Regions from separate parts of the Homo sapiens genome. Here regions 1, 2, 3, 4 and 5 are each reported to be linked to region 6. Evidence: microRNA targets listed by miRTarBase, many of them from high-throughput screens and not tested one by one. Region 6 holds a microRNA gene; each other region holds the end of a gene's coding sequence.

Region 1 (4,087 bases), not on the chromosome of region 6:
AAGAAGTAATAATGAGTATAAAATAAAATAGAACTTTTCTGGTATTATTGAGTGAATCGGTATAGAGAATTACATAAAGCACTAGTTAGGCTTAAGTTTTAATTGTATCTACAACCAGTCCCCATCTACCGTTCCCCCAACACAATTACCCCAGAAATCAAACTCCCTAAGACAGCAACCAATATTTTGGCATTCAATACTCAGTAAACATTTGAAAAGAATGAACATATGGTTATATGATACTTTGGGGGTAACCTAACTGGAAAGAAAAATTATAGATAAGCAGGTGAAACTGATATTAATATGAGTATTCAAATATTCTATTTATTTGATCATTTTCTTTCAGCTAAAAAATTGCCAAAGAATGAACCACAAAATCCAGGAGCAAATTCTGCCAGAGGAAGAGGAGTAGACCTTACCGAACCCACACAACCAACCAGGAATCAGTGTTGTAGTAACTAAACCTCTAGTTTGAACTAGCTGGAATAGTCTTCTGCTTCCTAAATGTTAATAACAATGGAATTGGAGCATTTAACCAGCCCAGTATGACTTCCAAAAGAAGAGACTTATGATAGAGTCAAGTTTCTAATACAGAATTATTTTAAGTGTTTTGAACTTAATTTTTAATAACATGCATGGGTCCCTCTCACTAATGTTTCAACAATAGGGAAAAATGAGAACTATGTGGACACTTGTTTCATTGGAAGGTTAGGGGGAATAATTTCTCATCACTAGGAATATAGACAAATGACTGTCTGGGCCCACACAGTTAACCAGCCCATTTCTCCACACTGGTACAGTAGTCACCTGTGAAAAAAAAATTGGAACTTACTAATTTGGGCTTTTCAAAAACATTCTTTGTTTAGAAGGAGATTCTAAAGTTATTTATGATGCTTAGCCATAGTATTCAGGCAAATGTTCATTTCTCCTGGTACCTGTATTTAAAATGTACATTCCACATTTTAATAAATTAACCACAAGAAAATAATCCCACATATACAAGGTCAGGGGTGGGGAAGAGTATTAATGGTATCTTAATTATACCCAGTCTGGTTTTTTTTTTTTAAATGGGGTAAAAATCAAATGCAACCCCATCTTGTTTTAGGAATTTTGAGAACTAATAAATGCACCTTAATGGTCAGTGTTCCTTTCAAACATGTGAGTTCTTTAACAAAAATGAAATAAACCAGGTGTCTGTGATTTCTAATTAATCACCGCTGGCCATTACACAGGTTTTGTTGTTTGGGGTGGGGAGGGGGCTTTTGTTCCCTTTTGACATAATATAGTCAATGCACTAACAATTATGTATATTCAAACTTGATTATTTTAAATTCGATCTTCAGCTGTACTGTAAATAGGGTACTGCATTGTAGTCTCCATATCTGTATTACTTTTCTGTAATATTTAAGAGTTGCTTAAAAGCATACAAAATGTACTGTTACTAAAACAGCTAATTATTTCTCTCTCCCCCTTTGACAGGAAGGGGCTTCAGTTGTTCCTCCATGGCTAGAACCATAATAAACAATGTACCCGTAATTTGTAACATAAAGTATTGCAATATGTTAGTAACAATCTTGCAGCCTTCCTTTCCAAAGTTCATTTTATTTTGATCAGTTCAGTATATTGCACTAATTATTTTAGGTATTTTCATTATATGAAAGCTACCATGTGTCAGAGATGATTTAATCTATTTAAGTGTTGGACTGCTAGGAGAACTTGTACATTTATGATAATGCAGAATTAGGAAAACGGTTCACCAGTGTTTAGTTTTATATTGAGGTGCTCAGGTTGGAATAAAGTGGTATAAAAAGCAAGTATCGGCTTTTCTCTTTTCCTTTTTTTTGGCATAAAACAGTGAATATATATAAATGATACTATATGACCTAGTATCCGCTTTTATATTTTCTTTACTATGTTCATAAAATTATTTGCATGGTATTGATGAATCATCCTAATAGCTGGATCATTGAAGAATCACTTTATATTTTGGTGCTCTGGATAATTGGAACTTTATTTTTTTATGTCAGAAGCTGATATTCACTTCCATTGAGAAATATTACCATAACTGTAATGTTGTCTCTGGAGCCAGCCAGTAAAGCAGCATTTACAAGTTCATGGCTAACATACTCAGCTGCGCCTTCATAGAAACTCTTAGTGTCTGATTCTTTTTCATTTGTTGCCACATCATTTACACTAGTTGGTCTGTCAGTTACTTTTTCACTGCAAGGTTTACGATGAGTCGTTTCTGCTGGAAATGTTTCTACATTCTCAGGGTTATAAATACAGTATTTAGAATAGTTTGAATCGGATAAATTTTCTTTGGAATTTGTAGTTGACACACGTACTTCAGATACAGATTTATACTGAAACAATACGTGGATATTACTCTGTGATTTAGTAAGGTTTGGTTCACTGGTTGAAAAAAGCAGAGGCCCTTTGGATGGTGATTTGTTAGGTATGATAGGACAGTATGTTTCTTTATACATGTGAAATGTTGTCATTGCCAGGGCAGTAACTTCCTCTTTATCCAAAACTTCCCAAAGTCCATTAGTAGCTACAATAAGGAATTGACATAGGTCATCTATAGGGACAGAAATAGTTTGAGGTGCTGGGATAATGGATTTTTTCAGCTTGAGATTTCCATGAAATCCAAGTCCTCGTGTAGTTTTTACTTGCCCCTCTACAAGCCCGTATGGTTCATTTGAACTAATGACTGCTCCATTCTGAAGTATTCTTCTTCTTTCATTTGTGTTTCGTGTAGTATGTTCTTTGGTTAGGCAAAAACCTTTCCCATTTCTGCATAAGACTGCTTGCACATTACCTAAAAGATTATTTTTTAAAAGAAGAAATTTTTATCCTAGAGATAACCAATTGTATCAAAATCTACTGCTAACTTTAGTAAATTCTGTGTTTCAATGCTAAACAGAAAGCAGGCTATGTAAAAGTACGTTTAAATATGTGTAATATATCACTACTGAATGATTTACAGTAAATACAGATTTCAAACAGGTCAATTTATCCCTCATTGTTAAGCAGCTTTTAGTGTTTAAAACTATTACATTTAGTATTAACATTACAGATAATGCAAAGTAACTTCTAAATTTTGAAATGAAATGACTTAATATTACTCACATTGCAGAGTCATGAGTTGAACTTTTTTATAGCCAACATATATTCCATCTAGGAGATTTTTAAATGTTTTTAAGATAAATGCTTTTTCAATTTAAAACACAAACTTTGATTTTTTAAAAAGAATGACAGTTGTGTAACCAGTACAAGTTAAAACTTGAATATACTTAGGTCATGGGTGATGAAAAAATTAGAATGTCACTATTAATGTTAGTCTTAACTAGGTTGCTATAATGTGTAGATTCTAAAATTTAAGTCAATCCGCCAGGTGTGGTGGCTCAAGCCTTTAATCCCAGCACTTTGGGAGGCCGAGGTGGGCGGATCACCTGAGGTCAGGCGTTCGAGACCAGCCTGACCAACATGGAGAAACCCCATCTCTACTAAAAATACAAAAAATTAGCCGGACGTGGTGGCCATGTTCCTGTAATCTCAGCTACTTGGGAGGCTGAGGCAGGAGAATTGCTTGAACCCGGGAGGTGGAGGTTGTGGTGAGCTGAGATGATGCCATTGCACTCCAGCCTGGGCAACAAGAGCAAAAATCTGCCTCAAAAAAAAAAAAAAAAATCATTCCTGTGGAGAAATATGTTGTTAATGTATTACATGAATAATAGGCAGCCAACATTAAACCCTTTGGTTGGAAACTGAAATCTTAAAAGTTGATTGTAGTTTGTCCGTGGTTCAAATGAATCTGTGATGGTGTGCTTCATTGAAATCTTACAGTTTAAACATGATCTGAACAGATTGCAGGGTGGTTATATATTACTGTAACTTTTTTTGGTGTATTTTTTAAGAACCACTGAATTTTTTTAGTTTGTTAGGAAAAATTGATTTTCCCCAAGTTTTTAGGAATATAATTACGTATTTTTTAAATTACATATAATTACATATTGTTTTTCTTGATATTAAATCATTTATGATTTATAGAAAGTTATTAAACTTCTGAGATGGGGTTAATGAT
Region 2 (4,078 bases), not on the chromosome of region 6:
AGATGGCACACAGTGGCTCTCTGAGGGACGAACTGTGCCTAGACTTTCCATGTGATTCCCCAGAGAAGAGCTTAACCCTCAACCCCCCTCTTGACACAATGGCAGATGGGTTATCTCTGGAAGAGCAGGTCACGGGGGAAGGGGCTGACAGGGAGCTACTGGTAGGAGATAGCATAGCCAACAGCACAGATTTGTTCGATGAGATAGTGACAGCCACCACCACAGAATCTGGTGACCTGGAGCTTGTGCATTCCACCCCTGGGGCTAACGTCCTGGAGCTGCTGCCCATAGTCATGGGTCAGGAGGAGGGCAGTGTGGTGGTGGAGCGAGCCGTTCAGACCGACGTGGTGCCCTACAGCCCAGCCATCTCAGAGCTCATTCAGAGTGTGCTGCAGAAGCTCCAGGACCCCTGTCCCTCGAGCTTGGCGTCCCCTGATGAGTCTGAACCAGACTCGATGGAGAGCTTCCCAGAGTCCCTCTCTGCCTTAGTGGTTGATTTAACTCCAAGAAATCCAAACTCAGCCATCCTTTTGTCTCCCGTGGAGACCCCCTACGCCAATGTGGATGCAGAAGTTCATGCAAACCGCCTCATGAGAGAGCTGGATTTTGCAGCCTGCGTGGAAGAGAGGTTGGATGGTGTCATCCCACTGGCTCGCGGGGGCGTCGTGAGGCAGTACTGGAGCAGCAGCTTCCTGGTGGATCTCCTGGCTGTGGCTGCCCCCGTGGTCCCCACGGTTCTGTGGGCATTCAGTACTCAGAGAGGGGGAACGGATCCTGTGTATAACATCGGGGCCTTGCTCAGGGGCTGTTGCGTGGTTGCCCTGCATTCGCTCCGCCGCACCGCCTTCCGTATCAAAACCTAAATAGAAGTTGTTGTTACCGTGTGCCAATGTGTCCCATGTGGGTTGTGCCAGGTAGAGAAACAGGAAGTCAATCATCTGTGACAGTCTCTATTCTGTCGTTTTGCTCCTTGGTATTTGATTTGCACTATATTTAGTTGAAGCCTGTTCACTGTTTAAAACCGGAGGTATCTTCAAAGGCATGGAGACCTGGTTCCAGTAAATGTCCCACCAGTGGGGTATAGAAAGCATGCTCATGACCCTGCCGTGTCGTCTGAGGTACCCGTTCTTATCCTAGTGGTTCAGGAAGAGAAAACGCAGTTTGCACTTTCAAGACAGCTTCTCTAAGGCTGGCATGTTATCTCCTTGCTTTGCTTTTTGCCGTTTTAAAATGTGTAATTGTTCCAGCATTCCAATGGTCTTGTGCATAGCAGGGGACTGTAACCAAAAATAAACATGTATTTGTGTAATTGGTTTGAAGAAGTCTTGAATAGCTCTTTACTGTCTTACTTGGGGTTGATAAGATTTGAGTGTTTGCAATTTTTTACTAAATGTAGCTCCAAAGTCTTAAATGGCTTGTTTGTTCTTAAACTGTTAATTGATGAAACTGTGCATAAGTTTACAATGTACTAACTTATTTTGCTTATTATATATAGTGTTTTATTGGAAATTGTAACCACACACTTCAGCATGATGAAAATAAAGATTAGTGTTTCCATTTAAATAAATGTTTTATCCTCCCATAAAATAATAATTATTTCTGTGATTTTACTTCTATGTATAAGAAAGACAATGAATAGCAGATCTTACATCTTTATCAATAGGGGGTCTGTAAAAATTGAATTAAATTAGGAAGAGGGAAAAAGAGTTAGTTATTAAAGAAAATGAAGATTTCCTACCCTTACTTAAAAAGCATCATTTCTGAATAAAAGTAGATTTGTTTACTTTTAAATTGCCCATACACTATTTTGTCCATATGTTTATGCAGTAAGTACATCTTGAGTGTTTTCAGGAACATTGGGTTGATCTAAGCATGCTAGGTGTTCAGGAGAGGGAGAATATGGTAGTGCCATATAGCTTCCTTCCCCAGAATGATAGGATGAGGGTGGGTGGCTGGGAAGGGATGAGAAGGTATTTGATCTATGTTCATCTAGTGCTTACACCAAAATTTTGAGATTAGTATTTTACACATATCTTTGAGGGAACTAAGCCTCAAAGAGGAAAAATGTTCAGGATCTCAGAGCTCATCTCCAGAAGCCACGATTTCAAGTGTTTGCAAAAGCAAATGCCTTTTCTACTTTGCCACACAAAGGGAGGATAAAGAGGCTGGATAATACCCCAAGTTCTCATCCAGAAACTCTTCTTCCATAGCACTTAACACCTTTAAATATACCACCCTTTTACTTACAATGCCTTGGTTATTACCCATCTTTCCCACTGAGATATTAGCTCCATGAGGGCAGGGATCTTTGTTCTGTTTTGTTCACAGCTGTATGTCAAGAACCTAGAACAAATGAAAGAATAAGACTTAGAATTTGATAGCACAACAGGGAACCTATAATCAATAATAATTTAATTGCATATATTAAAATAATTAAAATAATATAATTGGATCGTTTCAACACAAAGGATGCTTGAGGGGATGGATACCCCATCTTCCATGATGTGACTATTGCATACACATTGCATGCCTGTACCAAAATAGCTCATGAGCCCTATATAGACACCTACTGGGTACCCACAAAATATTTTTAAAATATTTTAATTTTCTACAAATAAATTAAAATTTAACAATAACTTAGTACAGCACCTGGCACATAGTGGGAAGTCTAAAAATTGCTGTTGAATGAATTAATTAATCCAGCAAATATTTACCAGGTACTCCGATGCTAACTGGGCACTTTCCAGGATGGGTCTTAAAAAGTGAAGGAGACAGAAAAGGTTTCTGTCCTCAGGAAGCTTATGTTCTGTGTCTGTGAGGGACACAACATGCCATCAAATAAACAAAAGATGGTTTCAGATAGTGGTAAATGCCTCAAAGGAAATAAGGTATTTTGACCAAGTGTGGCAGAGGTGAAAGTAAGGAACACATCTCTGAAGAAATAACATTGGTGGGAATGGATGAAAAAGAGTCAATCATGCAAAAATATGGGACAAAATCTTGTTGCAAGAGGAACAAATGCAAAGGCCGTCAGACAGAAAGGACTCAGAGTGTGACAGGAGCATCCTGGAGGTCAGTGTGGCTGGAGCAGAGTGAGAAGGAAGGAGAAAGTTGGAGTAGACAAGAAGCTGCTTCATATGGGGCCACACAAACCATGGTAGAGGTTTCAGTTTATTCAAGAACGCCATTTAGGGGTCTATTGTAATGTCCAGATGAGAGATGATGCCAATTTGGAGGTGGAAGTAGATACAGAGTTTAAGTTGAAAAATTACAGATATAGCTTGAAGATAGAACTAATGTGATTTGCTGATGGATTAAATGTGGAGTAAGGAAAAGAAAAAAAATAAGGGTGACTCAGGTTTTTGGCTTGAGCAATTGGATCAATGGCGGCCATATTTGCTCAGAATGGGAAGAGTTCAAGAGAAACAAGTTTGGGAAAAATAAAACTGAGATGTCTATTAAAACATCTATGTGAAGATATCAAGAGTAACTGCATATATAAATGTGAAAATCAAGGGAGCTGTCAGGACTAGACTTATAACATTGAACCTTTCTGGCATTTGTGTGGTAATTAAAACCATGGGAACAAGTGAGGTCATCCAGGAAGAGTGTAGAGAAGGAAAAAAGGTCAAAAATGGATTTCTGAGGTACTTCTATATTTAGATAGAGGTGGAGGATGAAGAACCAACAAAACAGCCAGAGAAATGACAGCCCAAAATGTAGGAGCAAAACTAGGTGATTAGTAGTATAAAAACCAAGAGAAGAGAGTAATTCAAGAAGAATGGAGCAGTCAATTGTGTTGAAGTCCCACCAAGAGATTAATATGAGAATAGTTACATATTCACCGGCTTTGACAGCAAGGTCTTAATGACTGTGTCAACATCATTCCTTGGAGAAATGGGGATGGGAGGCCAATTGGAGCAGGTTGAAGAGTGAATGGAAGCGAGAAAGTGAAATATGTGCTGCTGAATTTTTTTGTTTTATTAAGTTTTACAATTAAGGAGAATAGGAAATTGAGTGGTAGTTAAAAGGAGACATAAGGTCAAAGGTTAATTTTTCAATATTGAGAAGAGACAGA
Region 3 (4,074 bases), not on the chromosome of region 6:
AGCCTTCACCCATTGGGCCTCTGTCCATCTTTCCAGCCTGGGGACCCAATATTTGCCCCACAAGGCCCAGGCAGGAGGGCCTCCAGCACGCGCAGCCCTGACCACACTGTGAGCAGCTCACTTGGCAAGGGTGAAGGGCCGGAGTGGCGTCCTCCTGATGTGGCTTCCTTCCAGCCTCTACCACCCCTGGGGGCCTCCTCCAAGGAGCAGGTGGTTAGATGTCCTCTTGTGCCCACACACACGGCAGGGTGGAGGAGGATGAACCGGAACCCAGTCCATGCTTCTGCCCCCACCCTGGCACCCCAAGGTTTCTTCTCAGGCAACAAGGAGCACACAAAGTGAGCCCCTGTACACAGGTGGCTGGGATATGTTCATCTTCCACAGGGAGGCCAGTGCTGGGGATGAGGACAAAGGCCTACGCCCAGTCCCAGCTCTGACACTGCCTTGCTGAGTCACCCATCAGCCCTAACGCTTCCTGGACGAGACAAGCAGATAGGGTGCCCCAGAGAGGAGCTGTGTCACTAAGGGCCAGGACACCCCATCTCTGGGTCACACTTGGCCACGGCTTCATTTTTGGCTTCAGTTTGTTTACTGAACAGAAGGGAGAGGGGCCCTGTGAGACAGAGGACACTGACTCAGGTCGGTGAGTGGCCCTCACTGTATAGAGTCCATGGCTGGGGACCAAGTGGCACTGAGACTCGCCCAAAGTCACATCACAGAGCTGGGGTGCCTTGCTGACTCCCTGGCCCCAATCTGCTTTTCCATTTGTCGAACGCACACTGGCACACTGGCTGCAGCAGCTGCGGGGGTCGGGGGGTTCCAGGGCTGGCTGTCACTTGGCCTCCTGCAGAGGTAAGCTGAGGGCTATGTTGGACCCGCCAGAAGTCAGGTGACAGCTGCTTTCCCTTTCAGGATCGGGAGGGAGTCACCTGAGGGTATATTCTCAGTGGGCTAAACATGACATGCGAGAGCCCAGCTCTCCAAGCGGCCCCTTCCTCCTTCTCACACCAAGGCACTTTCAGAAGCCGCTGGATTCCGACTGGGGCTGTGCCACTTCATCGCCGGTGCCTCTGCTGTGCCGGCTCTCCTCTTCTGAGGGTGTGGAAGCAAACCCAGGTCAAGCTGTGAGGAGTGCCTAGCACCTGGCCAGAGCCAGGTACATGCCAGCTATGATGATGATGAGCCCAACTGCAACAGGAGAACACACTTAGTGCGACATGCAGCGGTAGCCTGGCGTTGGGCACCTCCCCATGCTCCGAGAATTCTATTTGGAGAAGCCCTTCTCCATTGTCTCAGTCACTTCAGGGTGCAGGAAGCGGCTGGCCAACCGTTCGATGTCGTCCAGCGTCAGGCGACTCAGGGACCTCTCGTAATCCTGGGGAGAGAAGGGCAGGAAGATTCAGGGGCTGCCAGTGGTGGGGGGGCATACACTGCAACAGAGGTAGGGGCTGGGAGCAACTGGGCCTGAAGAGGATGCCCAGGGTTACCCTTCTCACCCTCTGTAGCTGTTCCAGGACCCTGCTGGCATCTGCCGCACTGAAGTGGCGGGCCAAGACTTTGGAGATCAGCTGCCAGACCTGCGGGGGTGGGGAGTCGGCCAGCCTCTGGGCCTCGCCTTCTTCTAGTAGCACCTTCTCCAGGGGTTTGACCACTAGGTTGAGCTTGGAGTTGGGCCCGATGCTATAATCCGAGAGTCGTTTCCCATCTGCCAAAGACAGATCGATGGGTTCCTCCTCCTCCACCGCCGTGGGGGTGGCCCGGGGCGCGAGGCCGCCTCGGGCGGCGGGAGCGGAGCGCTGCGGCATCCGGCTGTGAGGCATGCGGCCGCCTCCCTTGGGGTCATGTGGCGCTTGGCGCCCGCACCCCGACCCGACACACGGCTGCTGGCCTCGGCCCGCGCACCCCGGTCCCGCTTCCTGCGGGGCTCCCCGGGCGTCTCCTCTCCCTGGGTACCTGCCAGGGCCTTGCCCTTGAACAGCAGCCGCTGCTGGCGCACTGGGACGTTCAGCTTCTCGGAGACCAGCTGCTTCAGCGTGGACACCAGCTCGTCCTCTGGCACCTGGCCGCGCGGAGGGTGGGAGGCAAGGGTTGAGCCCGCGGCCCCCAGACGGCGAAGCCCACGCGTCCGCCCCCGAGGGCAGCTCTCCCGGCTCCCGGCCCTCGGCCCGGCCGCCCCGTGCCCGCCCTCGGCCCTGCCGGTCCCCCTGCCAGGAGCGGGCGAGAGAGCGCGCCGGACCCGGCGGCCCGGCCCGGGGACCCTACCTGCAGGCTGCACTCGCGGCCCTGCAGCGCCTTCACCGTCAGCTGCATGGCGGTCGCGACGGCGTCCACTCGGGCCGGCGCGCACCCCAACCACCCCCCGCCGCGCGCCGCCGCCCCGGGCGCGCGCTGGAACCGCCCGCCGCCGCCGGAAGCAGCGAGAGGGGCGCGCCCGCCGCCCGCGCTTCCCGGCCCCGCCCTCCTGCCCCGTCCGCGCCCCGGCCCCGCCCCCCGGCCCAATTGCGCCCCGGGAGGAGTCCCCCCGGGGTCCCGCCTAGCATGCGCGCATCGACCGCCCTGGCCGGCGGACCCCTCCCAAAGCAACGACGCGGGGGAGTTGGGAGCAGGAACCAGTCGGGCCAGGTTGGCGTCATCTGGGAGCTGGGACATGGAGAAGGGAGGGCCAGAAGGTACGCTCGCCCCCGCGGACTGCCTGGCCCACCTCACGCGCCAGGACTGCTGGCGGCGCCTGGCCCTGCATACCCACAGACGGCCCGCCCCCGCTCCCTGTCTGGTGGCTTCCTACCTCCTCCTTTCTGGTCTGGCTGCGAAACGCTCCACTGAGCTTGAGAGGGGGCAGGGGGGCTACGCCTCTGCCCTCATCCTCCCACCTCTCCCAGAGTGGGGACACCCCCGGGGAGGGCTGATAGGGAAAGCCTATGCAGGGGTCACCGTGTCACCCAAGCTGGCCCTCCACCCTGGTCCACACTTACCCAGCACACTCTTTCTACCCCCACGCCCAGGCCCCAAAGGGCAAAGAGTAGAAGGGACCCAAGCTTGCTTCTCTCTTTTATTGAAATATATTTTCTGGGCAGCGCCCACCTACCTAACTCAGCATGGCCTCTTTGGCACTGAAAGCTGGAGAATAAAAAATCAGTAAAAAAAATAAGCCTGGATTTTTCTGAGTGCATAGTGCATGAGAACTTTGGTGGAGTGTGGGGGCTGGGGCTGATGAAAGCTTGACCCAGAGGCCTCAGGGAACTGGGAACAGGCTGCTGTAGATGAAGTGGCCAATGACCAAGGCCAGCATCTCGGAGGTGCCGCTCAGCGCCACAATGAAGGGGGCCTGGGAGGCATAGTCAGCTTGAAGGCGGCGGAGGGATAGCTGCAGCATGGCCAAGGCCAGCAGGCTGTTCTGCACCCCTACCTCAATGCTGACCGTCCGCCGCTGGGCCACTGGCAGCTTCAGACACGTGGCTAGGCAGTAGCCCACCAACAGGCCAACCAGGGGCACCGTGATACCCACCAGTACGATGGGTAGCCGGATGCCTGCCAGGATGAAGACCCCCATGCGATAGGCCAGGAAGAGGCCGCCCAGGAGGAGCACAAAGCTGAAGGGCTTGACGACCTGCAGCAGCAGCTGGGAGAACTTGGGGAGCTTGGACTTGATCAGCACGCCCACGGCTATGGGGATGGCAATGAACAGCAGGGTCCCCAGGATCTTGGAGATGGGCACGTGGAGCGTCTCATGGATGCTGAGCAGGCGGCTGTAGATGGCCGAAGACAGAGGCAAGAAGCCAGTGGCAGCCACCGTAGAGAGGAAAGTCATGGAGATGGCCAGGGTGACGTCCCCTCCAAGAAGGAGGCTGAAGAGGTAGCTCCCCCCGCCGCCAGGCGACGAGCAGGTGATGATGAGGCCCAGAGCCAGGGCCTTGGGCAGCATGAAGACCTTGGCCATGAGGAAAGCGTACAAGGGCATGACCAGAAACTGGCCCAGGAGGCCCAGCAGCATGGGCTGGGGGCTCTGCATGAGCCCCTTCAGAACCTCGAGTTCCACTTTGCACCCAAACGAACACTTGTTGACAAAGATAAGAG
Region 4 (4,087 bases), not on the chromosome of region 6:
ATCCTGTCTTTCAAAATGCAGCCGTTATGTTGGCAGATAACATTTATCAATTAGTGCGTTGTAGGCACTGGTGTGAAAATACTTTTCATGGAGTGTCCAGTAAGATGTTCACAACGTTTAGAGGCAGATTGTACCATTGCCATTTCATAAAAAAATTAATGTTCAGAGAGGTGCTATAACTTCTCCAAGGTCACACAGTTATTCAGTGACAGAGCCAGGACTCAGCCTGTAGCTCCCAAACTCCAAGTCCAAATCTCTTTCTTTCCCCTGGGCTGCTTAGGGTATCATGATGCAGGAAGGGATGGGGCCCTTGGGAGGATTCTCTACCGTCCAAGGGATAGTCTTTGACTGCCAATTAATGTCTGCCTTTCATGTCCCACTTTTATCCCTCTAGGTTCTGAAGCTGCTGCTCGTGGCCTGGGATCGCCGCCTCATTTTTGCCATTGGCACCTCCAGCACCACAGGCGAGTCAGACACCGTCATCTGGAATGAGGTCCACCACAAGACAGAGTTTGGCTCTAATCTCACTGGCCATGGCTACCCAGATGCCAATTACCTGGATAATGTGCTGGCTGAACTGGCTGCCCAGGGCATCTCTGAGGACAGCACTGCCCAGGAGAAGGACTGAGGCCAGAAAAGCTTTGAGGTGGGAGGGGCCATGGAGACTGCAGGACAGGAAGTGAGGAGAGTGAGTCAATGTAGAAGAAGTTGGTGTCCTGCCCTCCCAACTTTCTATCCTCCCCTCCTGCCCTGTGTCCATCCCTCATCCCTCCCAACCACAGTGGGAGCCAGACTGAATATAGCGACATCATTCATAAATCTCATCCAACACAAAGGGAGATGGGATGAGGGCCATCCTGGGTCTGTTCCCATGGAGTTTTTGGTGCTGGGTAGGCAGGAATCCCCTCCCTACCCCACCTCCCAAGTAGGGGCATGGTCAGCACACCTAGGGTATGGGCAGTGCTTAGGCACTCCATATCCTGGCTTTGGGAAGCCGGGGTTTCTTGCCTCAGCCGGCTTCTTGCTACTTCCACTCTGCTTTGAGACTGGAGTTTCTGCTATTCTCCCTCTGCTGGAGGCAGGGAGCTCTCACTGTGCAAGGTTGGGGGGTGGGCAAAGGGGTGAATCACTAAACTGCTGTGACATCAGAAACTGATGCCTTGGTGTAGAGCAAGGAAGCACTTCTTCCCAAGAGGGTCGGAGAAGGAAAAGCCTCTGGGAGCACATTCTGCTGTCATCACAGTCCTTGGCTTCTCTGGGCCCTCCTCTCCTCCTCACAGCTCTCACCTGTCCAAAGAGGCATCTGGTTCTCTCATGTGGATGGATGGACTCTGGGGTTCCTCTTTGGAGTGGCATCCCATGATGCTGTTTCTAGACCCTCTCTGATCAAACCAGAGCCTGCATCCCACTGAGCATCTGAACTGTCCTCAGGGAGAGGAGCCCACAGCCTTCTTCCCAACTCATTCTAGACCAGCTCAAAGATTCCATGAGTTTCATCGAGTCACTGTGAGTGGAGCCCATGCTGGGCTCTGTGCCCTCTGTGTCTGTGCATGCGCGTGTGTGTGTGGGCGTGTGTGCATTGCTGGGCCAGCTTGAAGGGAAGGCCCGTCATGTCCCTGCACTCTGTTTTGCAAGATGCCAAACCCCAGTTCTGATGGGGCTCCAACAGCCAGGCTGTGGTCCTTTGACGTTCCTCACCTGTTGCCAACCTATCCCGTAGTGAACTGAAACCCCAATGAAGACAGAACTGTGCCTGGGGAGATGCAATGAGGTGAGGGCTGAACTCATCCTTTTATATTTCTTTTCAAGATTGGATCAGAGCTCATCTCCATCCAGTCTTGTTTCTATGAAGGCTTCAATCTGTTTCCATGCAAATTTGCTAATCAGAGCCCAGAGCTGCTGGGTCCCTCATCTCCCTCATCTATTATAGATTGACTTACAGCAGGGAGAGAATCTCTTTAGCTCATTCCTAATGGAGTTGGGATCACAATATGGTCTGGTCCAATCTGCATCTTGTTGTGTCCCAAGACCCTATCTCCTCCCCAACATTCTTATTGCCTTTGGCTCCCAGTAAGGAACGAATTGGGGGCCAGGGAGGAGAACAGGGGGGATCAAGAAGGGAAACCCAATTCCCCCTTTGAAAGTGGGTTCTTTGAACTATGTGTTTGGGGGAAGTTCCTCTGGATACTAATTTGAATTTATATACCTCATGTTTTGGGGGTTTGACGTATATATATATATATATATATGCATATATATTTCATAATATTTGGAAGGTTTTTGATGCTAGAAAAATGGAAACAAGAGAACCTTCAAAAATGGTACTTAGATGGGAACTGGAGGCCAATCTTTCATAAAGCCAGCCCCATAGCTGCTTGCTGTTAGGCCTCCAGCCATTTTGACATTGGGGTGGATAGTCGATTCACCTGCCTGTCAGTCGATTCACCTGCCTGTCACCCAGTTCTGTGGATGTGCTGGTGCTGAGCCTTTGCTCTCTTTCCAAATGGTTACAGGGATGTTGATCAGCTCCACCAGAGGGAGCTCTGATGGGAGGAATTGCTCTGCCATCCTTGTCCCTGTGTCTCCTGTCGGCAGGCAGCCATTGTATCTCACCAGCAGACCAGGAGACTGGTCCCAAGGTTACTGCACCACAGGGCAATTTCCTGCCATAGTTAGGAAGGAAACACCTGAACTAAATGGAAGAGACATCCCTGCGGTGTTTAATATCACACCCATGCCCTTTGTCAGGTTACCATGTACAGAGATTACTTGGAGAGCCTCATGCCGTCTCTACCTTCGCACACTGGTCAAGTATCTGCTGAGCTTCTTGGCCGCAAGGATGCAGAAATAGGCTGAGGGTCCATGGGAAGAAAGACACAATGAGGCAGTAGGAGGTGGGGAAGAAAAGAAGACAGACTTTCAAAATGGAATTAGGCACTGGGGAGAGATCAGTTTCCCCACATCAGGGAGAAGAAGGTATAGGTGGGGAAGGGGGTGGCCAGGAGCAGAAGGAAGAAGACTCAAGATGGAAAGGGAGCCGCTGTGCCTGTGGCAATACCACTTGGAGAGGTCGACTTCATACCTTCAAGCCTTTTCCCCTGGGCTTTTGATTGTGTCTGTGCCCCCTTTCTTGTCCTCTCTGCAGATGCCCAGTAGGGGCTACCTCATCCTCGTGCTGTTCTTGTGTGGCTTTCTGGGCAGTAGGGATCTTGAATTTCCTTTCTAACACTGTGCCCGGCAAGGCGGGGAGCATTCCTCTGCCCTTTGTCTTGTGCCAACCTGGAAAGGTGCAGTCTAGATTTCAGTGAGAACCCTGCCAGCTGAGCCCTGTGCATCTACTACCTTGACACAGAGTGTTTTCCCACTAGAAGCTCTGCTCTGCTCTCCTGGCCCAAGTAGGGGATTCCATGCCTTCCCTTTCATGGTCTTAGCACCAGCAGCCTAGTTTCTCCCTTCCAGAGTCTCCAGGGATGACAAATTGGATTGGAGACAAACCTCGTCAGATGCTCATCCCCTAAAAGGTTAATTGTGTATTTGTGGCTGCGTGTGCCTTTGTGTTTTCATTCTCTTCCCATTTTTGTACATTTTGGTCTTCTCTGTGGTTTTATACTTGGTCAAAAGTACTCGTCTTGGTATTGCACTGTTGTGTGCATGAGAAAACTGGGGGAAGGCTCACTGGTACAAGAAAGGACCCCTGACCCCTTTCCTTCTCTGTGGTCCCCGGCATTAGATTGGGGGTTCTGGGAGAGGCAGGTGAATGTCCTAAGTGAATTGTTCTGTTTGTAACTGGAATGTTTTTGAAGTCTTTGGTGTTGCTCCGTGAAAGGACATCGCCACCTGGTGCTCATGAGGTGTCTTTGCAGAACAATAAATGGCAAATGAACAACCACAAAATTGTTACTCTTGTTGGCCTTCTGCTGTTTGTAGATTAGTGCACCTATCTGTGAGGGATTTGGGTTACCTCCCTGAGTCTGTAAGCAACCACAAGCCCTGCCACTGGGTGGGGGAAGTCCCTCCCCAACCACTTAAAAACAAATTTTCCACATATTACCCACCCACACATTTGACCTGGCTAGACTTTGTTTGC
Region 5 (4,087 bases), not on the chromosome of region 6:
AGAATAACTGAATGTGGACTATAATTTTTTAAAACATTTTATTTTCATGTGCTATTGTAATTTATATCCAGACACAATAATCAAATACAAAAGAGAATGCAAGACTCTCAATTTCTAGTTTATAGTTTTTTAAAAAATCTCTTTATTAACTTGTTACAGTAGAATACATTTTTTAAAATATAGTACAAAAAATTCTCGGTGATCACCAAAAATGTAATCAATAAGGTTACATTCCTTTGTTTCTCTGAATCTTCTTTTTCCTATAATGAAAAGTGTATTTTTTAAACCTTAAGAAATTCTTTTTGCACTACCTTTTCCTATCCATTGCATCATAGTTTATGTCCCACCAGTTAGGATCTTGGAGAACTGCTCACATTAATCTTGTTTCCTGGGTTTTATTTCAAACTGTCCTGAACTTTATAGTAATTTTTGCTAAAGGAAGTTCCTAGTAAGCAGTTATTTGCCTTTGGTAAACTTAATTTTAGATGAAAACTATGCACAAAAAAACAATTGTCTTATGATTAGACCTTCAAGTTAGGAGGTGAATAGTCTATGCAGCATAAGACAAACCATAACTCTTACCTTTAAATTTTCTCATTTGACAAGAACTATCAAATTCCTTTTTAAAAGAGTACACATATACGTTTTTAATTTGGAAATTTCATATTCGGTAAAAATTCAAATTTTAATTACTGTGGAATTTTGACAACTCCAGCAATGGCAAAGCTGAATTTATTTCACTATTATCTATCAAAAAGCAAGTAACATTATAAGATTCCAAATGTTTAACCTGGTAAAAGTGAGAATATATTTCAATCAAGAGCATACCATCTAAAAAAAACACTATTGCTATCTAGTCATATGCATTTCTTATTACATTTTTGCAGCCCCTAAGTGTTCAGAACAAATGTAGCATTCACATAATACTATAGTCAATGAAAAGAGTATATTCTTTTATTGGTTTTTGTTCATACATGTTAAGTTTCAACTTTCAATAATAAAATTCAATAAATTTGATTCCTTAATCATAAAAACTGGCTTTACACATTATTTACATATTGTCAAAGTCCATACAAAACATCACAAGGATTTGATTGACTCTATGCATGGTACCATCACACAGGAGGAGGGAGCTAATCCAGTAACATACATTCAAAGATTAAATTGCAGATATGCACAGTGTATTTGGCACTGTTCATTAATATTATAACACCTTCCTCTCAAAGACAGGCATTCTTAAGCGTTAGTCACGATATACCAGAATTTGCTATTCACATTAAAACCACCTTTTAAACTTTATAACAGTAACCGATTATTATAGTTTTAAGAAACAAAACACAATGAGAACTGGGAATGGAATTCAAATCCTCCAACTTCTTGCTATGCTCCAAGCTGCCATCCATAAAACAGGTTTAATTCGGTAATTTTTCCATTGTGGGGAGTGTCAACAAGAAACAATTTAAAGACAGTATTTTCCAATACAAATAAAGACACATACTTTTGTTTAAAATTACCAGTTCTTCTTGGGAGTGCAAAGGGAGCCTTGATGATGTACAACTTGTGATGCTTTTGGCAGGAATTACAGAACAACCAATGCCATTCAAGTTGTGGAGATTGTACTAGCAGGTGAACTCATAAAGAGAAGGTTCTGGAATGACTACATCTGAAATCAGAATCCTAGTAGTTTGTAGTTTGCCTCTTCCTAGAACTTCAAGAGACTCAAATCATAGGCTACAGATGTACTTTCAAGTATATACTTATGAATGGAAGGAGAAAATAAAAGCACGAAAATGCAAATATTAAACCTTTACTGGCTTGGGCTATATTCCAGTAGGTAATTTATTTGACTAACTTAACTTTAACAACGATTAAATCCCTTCATTTTAATCAGGTCCATTAAATTTCATTCATTAAAGCTATACATACTCCAGAATGTTTATAAGACATTTATACCTATCATGTTTACAAAAGGCATAAATTCAGTCTTCAGCTGCACTACAAATGCCTCAATATAATATAATCACAGTATAAGGAATCAGAAATTCTCTGGTTAGATATGCTGTAGCTTCACACAAAACTCTCAGTAATAAATTAAAACAAAAAAAAAAAGTCGTACAACGTATAATGGATTATGCAGTGCAAAGTAATGTCACTGGACCAAAATTTAGTTTAATCATTTTTATTTCAAGTGTATTTAAAAAATCATAAATGGGGTTTCATAATCCAAAGTTGAAACATTTATTCTTCATAGCTTCAGAATTTAACAACCAATTGTAGACCATGCTTTCCAAATCCAGTCTTCTTTGCTATTTTTCAAAACTTCTGAGATCTAGTATTAAACTGCTCCATTCTAAATGTATAGTTTTAGATAAGTATTGTACACTTGTTGATAAGGGTTTTCTGAAAGCAGTCTATCAAATATAAAGAATGGTTTCTATCTAAGAATCAGCAGTGAGGGAAGAAATATTAAACACCTATCAAGAAATCAATTATTCATTTTAAAAATAACAGAACCAGTGCTGCTCTCTGTCATAAAAGAGAACATGTAAAATTTATTTTTATAGACTTTGGTAATATTTTATTCCCCCACAGAGGCCTTCAATCCTACTTAAAGATATTTTACACACAGTAACCATCAGGATTTACTGAGTAAAAATCTCAGGTATTAACCATGCCCCTAAAATGTGCTATTCCAAAGAGGAACAGGTTACTTTTGAGGAAAAAAGCTGCCTTGGTAACTTCCCTCAAATGTTTATTTTAAATAAAAATGGTTGATGGAAATATTTTTTAAAAGAACTTTGGGTATAATATGGCATACTGCCCATCAAACAAAAAAGGAAATAAAACTTTCTTTCCATTTATAATAAGTTTTCCACCTTTACTATCAAGATTACAACTTATTGACCTTTTATGCTTGCTTGGTTTTTTTGACTGCCTAATCCAATGTTTAAATTTTTAAGTCTGCATTTCAATGTAGTAGGAGTTATTTTTCAAATAATCTTCAGAACCCAGAATACAGAGCAACTCTCAGAATACCAGAGCAACACTCTCAAGTCATACTTTTGAACCCAGAATACCAGAATACCAGACTTCAGAACCCAGAATACCAGAGCAACACTCTCAAGTCATACTTTTGACTACAATTAAGAGATGAAAATGGACGGATATCTGAAGATAGGTATTCCCTCTGCTCTGAAGGTGAGCAAGATTTTAACATGTGAGCAACACAGAACTCCACTCCTCTGGAGCTCCTTTCAACTCAGAATGCTTCAGTTCAGTAAGTCAATATATTATTCTTAAAAATTAAAGTTTGGTCACTAAGAAGGACTGAACAAAAATTATTCCCCTCCCGCCAAACACAACCAGAACAGTTCTAATCAGGCCCTCTTCTCCCCACAAAAATAGGGAAGTAGCTGGGCTGAAGACTTTAAGTGTGACATTTCAGTTCCTAAAACATCACTGCTATTTGCTCAAAGTTGTAGGTCTATGTATTTCCTTCTCCAATACGTCCCCATTTATAAGTTTATTTCCATACATACAAACGTGCACATGTGTGCACGTGCACACGCACACACACACACTCACTCTCAAGTAAGACACTTTTTTGTGTTTGTTGATAAATTATGAGGATTATGAACTAGGTGTGTACAGGGTTTCATAGGTGCTTTGTAAACATCAGAGTCACTTGGTTCCTTTCCTCCACAAGCCTCAAATCAAATTATGCAACCAATGACCACTACTTTCCCAGACGCTGTTCACAGGCTGCATATTGACGAAGGGCAGAGAAAAAGTCCTCATAACTGATGTTTAGGTGGGAAGGCAAAGAGCTGAAAAGAAAACACGGGGGGAGAAAAGCAATTAGATATACACTGTAATGTAGGGGGGAACCAGAAGATAAGGACCAAAAAGAAGTTAAGAATAGAATACACCAAATTATCCTCCACCAGACAGCACCATGACAGGCACGGAAAATGTCTTAATCATAATATGTAGACTGAAAGGGTGGGGCCCTGACAGAACTGACTGGGAAATAGCAGAGAGCCTCTGAGGCACCGAGGGGTAGTGGCACTCACTGTTTATTGACGAG
Region 6 (4,087 bases):
TATATTTAGTAGAGATGGGGTTTCTCCATGTTGGTCAGGCTGGTCTCAAACTCCCGAACTTAGGTGATCCACCTGCCTCGGCCTCCCAAAGTGCTGGGATTACAGGCATGAGCCACTGCGCCTGGCCAGAGATTTTTTAAATGACAGTTGTCTCTGCCTCAGGGGCTCCCAGTCTAATGGACACTTCTGCCACAGGGAGAACATTTTGATTTAGGCCGGGTGCGGTGGCTCATGCCTGTAATCCCAGCACTTTGGGAGGCCCAGAAGGGCAGATCATGAGGTCAGGAGTTCGAGACTAGCCTGGCCAACATAGTGAATCCCCGTTTCTACTAAAAATACAAAAATTACTGGGTGTGGTAGCACCTGTAGTCCCAGCTATTCGGGAGGCCGAGGCAGGAGAATCGCTTAAACCCGGGAGGCGGAGTTTGCAGTGAGCCAAGATCGTGCCACTGCACTCCAGCCTGGGCGACAGAGCAAGACTCCATCTAAAAAAAAAAAAATTTGATTTAACAAGCTGTTCTGGAGGAATATTCAATGCTGTGAAGCCCAGAGAAGGCTTCCATTGGGAGGGAGCCAGTGAGCAGAGCCCTGAGTTCAGTCTCCCCGCAGCAAGAGCAGGAGACAGCTGCATGGGGGTCTCCAGCCAGTGGGTACAGAATCTGTACAGGACTGAGGGGTGGCCACCTCCAGCCATGGCCCCTGGTGCCTAGAGGAAGGGAGGATGGATCTAAGTCAGATGACCCTAGGATCAAGGAACCCCAAGGGATCAGGACTAGGAAGCCAAGGAGCATGTGTCATTGCCCCTGTTCCTCCCACGGGTGCCAGGGCTTCTCTCCCCAGGGTAGGGGTAAAGCAGTTTCCCAATGCGCCCAGCTAGGGATGAGGGGAACTCCCAAAAGCCCATCTGGAAACCTAGTCCTCCTCTAAAGAAGATTTGAATGACTGTGACTGGGCACGTAGAAACCTTTTGCACCGTGTCAGGTCTTGATGGTAGAGGTGGTCATCCAAGCATGCCTGGGGTCAGGCTCCTTGGAAGTTCAGCTCCAACCCTGTATTCCAGCTGGGACGGTTGGAATGTTAGACACCTCAGTCCCTCCTGCAGGTTCAGGGCACACCTCTCTGTAAGAGAACAAACTGGCATGGTTGGTAGACATCATTTGCAGGCTTTGTATCCCAAGTCCACCCATCCATCTCACATAGTACCACTCCAGCTGAGTCCACTCAACTGATCAGTCAACTGGTCAGTCCATAGTACCACTCCAGCTGACGTCCTGGGGTGAAGGCTGCCTCCTGAAAGGCCTGCCTTACCCCCTTACCCAACTGCCACCCAGAAGAACATTCTCTCCAGAGCCTGGCCCTGTTCAAGCTTCCAGCAAGGACTGGGCCCAAGCCAGGCCTAGAATGATCTTCCATGCAAAAGACTGGGCGTGTATTTCCCCTAAGACCCTGACCAGGCCTGGAGTTCCAGTCTTACCCCAGGGACCCAATGTGGAAAGACCTTCAAACAAGAGCTTTTCAGAAGCTGGGGAGGTCTGCTCCTGCACCTGTCCAGCCATGACAGGATGGAGAGTTTAGGGATGATTCTCCAGCTCTGCACCCACCTGATCCTCTGATGGAGGGTCCAGTCCAGCTTCACATCTGTGCCTAATCAGTGGAAACACTTACCCTCTGGGCACCTCAACCTTCTCAACTGGAAAGTGGAGTGAGGCAGCAAGCTCCCTTTCCCCCTCCCAGGGTAGCAGGCTGGACCTGACCGATGCCCTTTCATCATTGCACTGCTTCCCAGCGGCCTATAGTAGTGCAACAGGGAAAGAGTGTCGGGCAGGCCTGCCAGTGCCTCCCCCAGGGTGGTCTGCAGGGATCTGAGACCTGGAATGCAGGCTGGCTGGGGCGGGGCCTCTGCCCGGGGGGAAAGGGTGCCCTCTGACCCCAGAGGCCCAGGCCTGTCTAGAATCTCAAGTTTCCATGGAGAAGGGAGCGAATTGGGTAGGGGGGAGGGGAGGGCCTGCAAGCCCAAGGGGCCCTGCCTGGGGAGTGGGAGGTGAGGGTTATAGGGAGGGAGATCCCCAAGGCTGGTCCCAGATGCTTTGACAATATCATTGCACTGCTTCTCAGAGCACAGTAGTGCAACCTCGTCAGAGCACCTGCGGCCAGCAGGGGGGACCCCACCACCCCCAATACACGCAGGGCGGGAAGCTCAACCATGGATGGGTGGGTGGGGCAGAGCCCCCGTCCAGTCCATCCGGGCAGGGAAGGAGACCGCAGCGGGGTGCGTCCCTGGGGTCTTCAGAACCCAGGACACCCAGGCCTTTCCCAGAACGCTCCGGATTGAGGTGGAGGAGAAACCCCAGACTAGGGGGTTGTTCCAATCCCGGAGCAGGAGCTGACGGGCCACGCAGGGGAGGGGGCGCACACACAAAGACGAACCCGCACTCAGCCGCAGTCCAAAGCCGGCTAGCGCCCGGAGCGGGGTGGGTACAGCCCGACGACCCTGCGCCCTGACTCGGCCCGCGGCTCCAGGAGAAAAAGGGCGGCCCCACCCCGGGACGACGCGCCCCTTCTAGCTGACGACTCCATCCCTGGCCCCTTGCCCTGCACTAGATACACTCTGGATTCTTTTCTAACATATTCTTCTGCCTGGAGGCCCAGAGTGGAGCAGAGGATGGGGGCTCCCCGCCCTTCTAGAGTTCCCTGCTCCAAAGAGGGCCCCCGGGATCCCGGCCGCGCCCCTCCGCCTGACCCGCCGAGTAGGGCCGCCCAGCCCAGCCCAGGATCCCCTCCTCAGACACAGCTGACTCACGCAGACATCCCTTCCGCCCAGGGCCCGGTCAGGACGCGGAGGGTTAGACGGAAGAGGATCCCGGCCATCGTCTGCCCCCGGGTCCCCGTCCAGACGACCCTGCACCTCGTGGCGGCCCCTCGCCTGCCGGCTCCATCTTTAACCCGCTGACAGTCGGAGGGGCCGGGCCCCCGACTCCTTAGCATAGCGCTGCGCTCATTGGCCGGCGCTGGCGCGGGGATTCGCCTCCTGCATGCCTGTTGGCTGAGACGGGAGAGATTTCAAAATAGCCTCCGGGTTCCGATTGGCCCGGCGCCGGCCGAGTCTCGGGCTCCGTGGTTTTAACAATGAGTTCTACAAACACTTTTTCCCCATTCATAACTTATCAAAAGGAACTTTGCCCGCCTTTTCTCAGCTCCAATCTCTGCGAGTTTTCTAGCGACACCGACAAGAGCGCTTGGAAGCCCGGTGAGGGGCGCCAGGCGCGAGCCCACAGTGGGGGAGGCCGAGACCCTGTGGAAATTCCCGAACCCCCGCCAAGCCTGCTGTGAACGCGGCCGCGGGCTGCTTTGTTATGCATGCTGAGGTTGCTCTCTGCGCCTCCTGGATGGGATATTTGGACGTGGTGGGCTTACAAACTGGGGTAGCCCCCCTCCCAACTCAACCACCCCGGATCGCCCGGCAGGACGCGAGTGAGGCTTTCCTGAAAACCCCCGGGTATGGCTGGGCTATGGAGACCGGGTCCTGGGCCCCGTGGTCTTTTGGATCTGTGGGAGATATGGGGAACGGAAGTGTAAGCTTTGGTTTCTTCGTGATTGTGATCCACTTTGCGGAGAAGCATTCATTAAGCGCCTACCCTTCGCTGATGACTAGGAAGTATATTGATCACCGGGCTGTTGAACGGCTCCTAGAGGGAAGGGAGGAGCTGTGCTTAGACAACTGTGCCCCTGCAACCCCTCCTGCTTTATTATCGGTCCAATGGCTGAGAGCAAATGTTTTTGAGGCAGGCAGAGGTGGTTTTGAATCTTTATGAACCCCTGTTGCCTTCTTGCAAAATTGAGATGGCAATCAAACCTGCCCCATAGGGCTGGCTGTTGCCAGCAGCAAATGAGATGCTGTGTAAATTGTTGGCCCAGCACCTGGCATTTAGTAAGTGTTCACTGAAAGTGAGTTCTGCTGCCACTACAGTTTTTATTTTTGGCCTTGTCCTGCATTCTGCCTGGAACAATCTTATCTGCTCCCACAGCATGGGCTTTGGTTGCCCAGGGATTCCCACTTGTGCACTGTTGGGTTCCTCTTGGTCAACAC

What was found. The annotated mature microRNA hsa-miR-130b-3p reads CAGUGCAAUGAUGAAAGGGCAU and lies in region 6 at 1,757-1,778, opposite strand. An mRNA with a match to its seed (bases 2 to 7 or 8) in the 3' UTR can be bound and repressed. Matches are read on the target gene's strand: a 7mer-m8 pairs with bases 2 to 8, a 7mer-A1 pairs with bases 2 to 7 and ends in A, and an 8mer does both.
Region 1: the mRNA of RAB5A is a reported target of hsa-miR-130b-3p. Seed matches in the 3' UTR shown: 7mer-A1 at 1,291-1,297 and 8mer at 1,624-1,631.
Region 2: miRTarBase lists SYBU as a target of hsa-miR-130b-3p. Seed matches in the 3' UTR shown: 8mer at 983-990 and 7mer-m8 at 1,162-1,168.
Region 3: the mRNA of SLC10A3 is a reported target of hsa-miR-130b-3p. Seed matches in the 3' UTR shown: 7mer-A1 at 3,170-3,176.
Region 4: miRTarBase lists DTX4 as a target of hsa-miR-130b-3p. Seed matches in the 3' UTR shown: 7mer-m8 at 3,636-3,642.
Region 5: the mRNA of NUS1 is a reported target of hsa-miR-130b-3p. Seed matches in the 3' UTR shown: 7mer-m8 at 2,136-2,142 and 7mer-m8 at 1,529-1,535.

Annotation. Positions count from the first base shown.
Region 1 is chr3:19,983,362-19,987,448 of GRCh38, forward strand. RAB5A (RAB5A, member RAS oncogene family) reads left to right here. Exons shown (of 6, transcript NM_004162.5): 6 at 347-1,814. The coding sequence ends at 462. PP2D1 (protein phosphatase 2C like domain containing 1) reads right to left here. Exons shown (of 3, transcript NM_001252657.2): 3 at 1,985-2,821. The coding sequence ends at 2,019. Among named protein-coding and RNA genes, the nearest start is that of PP2D1, 27 kb to the right of the region's middle.
Region 2 is chr8:109,571,691-109,575,768 of GRCh38, reverse strand. It overlaps SYBU (syntabulin), which reads left to right. Exons shown (of 7, transcript NM_001099754.2): 7 at 1-1,791. The coding sequence ends at 863. Among named protein-coding and RNA genes, the nearest start is that of EBAG9, 34 kb to the right of the region's middle. RefSeq lists an enhancer at 719-948.
Region 3 is chrX:154,484,275-154,488,348 of GRCh38, forward strand. It overlaps SLC10A3 (solute carrier family 10 member 3), which reads right to left. Exons shown (of 2, transcript NM_019848.5): 2 at 3,037-4,074. The coding sequence ends at 3,233. UBL4A (ubiquitin like 4A) reads right to left here and starts at 2,341. Exons shown (of 4, transcript NM_014235.5): 1 at 2,263-2,341; 2 at 1,954-2,059; 3 at 1,497-1,705; 4 at 1-1,375. The coding sequence starts at 2,310. The coding sequence ends at 1,265. RefSeq lists enhancers at 1,030-1,788, 1,789-2,547, 2,885-2,944 and silencers at 1,725-1,874, 2,365-2,624.
Region 4 is chr11:59,204,282-59,208,368 of GRCh38, forward strand. DTX4 (deltex E3 ubiquitin ligase 4) reads left to right here. Exons shown (of 9, transcript NM_015177.2): 9 at 395-4,087. The coding sequence ends at 628. Among named protein-coding and RNA genes, the nearest start is that of MPEG1, 6.6 kb to the right of the region's middle.
Region 5 is chr6:117,706,665-117,710,751 of GRCh38, reverse strand. It overlaps NUS1 (NUS1 dehydrodolichyl diphosphate synthase subunit), which reads right to left. Exons shown (of 5, transcript NM_138459.5): 5 at 25-3,827. The coding sequence ends at 3,737. Among named protein-coding and RNA genes, the nearest start is that of NUS1, 33 kb to the right of the region's middle.
Region 6 is chr22:21,651,045-21,655,131 of GRCh38, reverse strand. It overlaps MIR130B (microRNA 130b), which reads right to left and starts at 1,828; the gene lies at 1,747-1,828. MIR301B (microRNA 301b) reads right to left here and starts at 2,151; the gene lies at 2,074-2,151. It also overlaps the pseudogene LOC107985532. RefSeq lists enhancers at 2,438-2,487, 2,024-2,695, 2,696-3,366.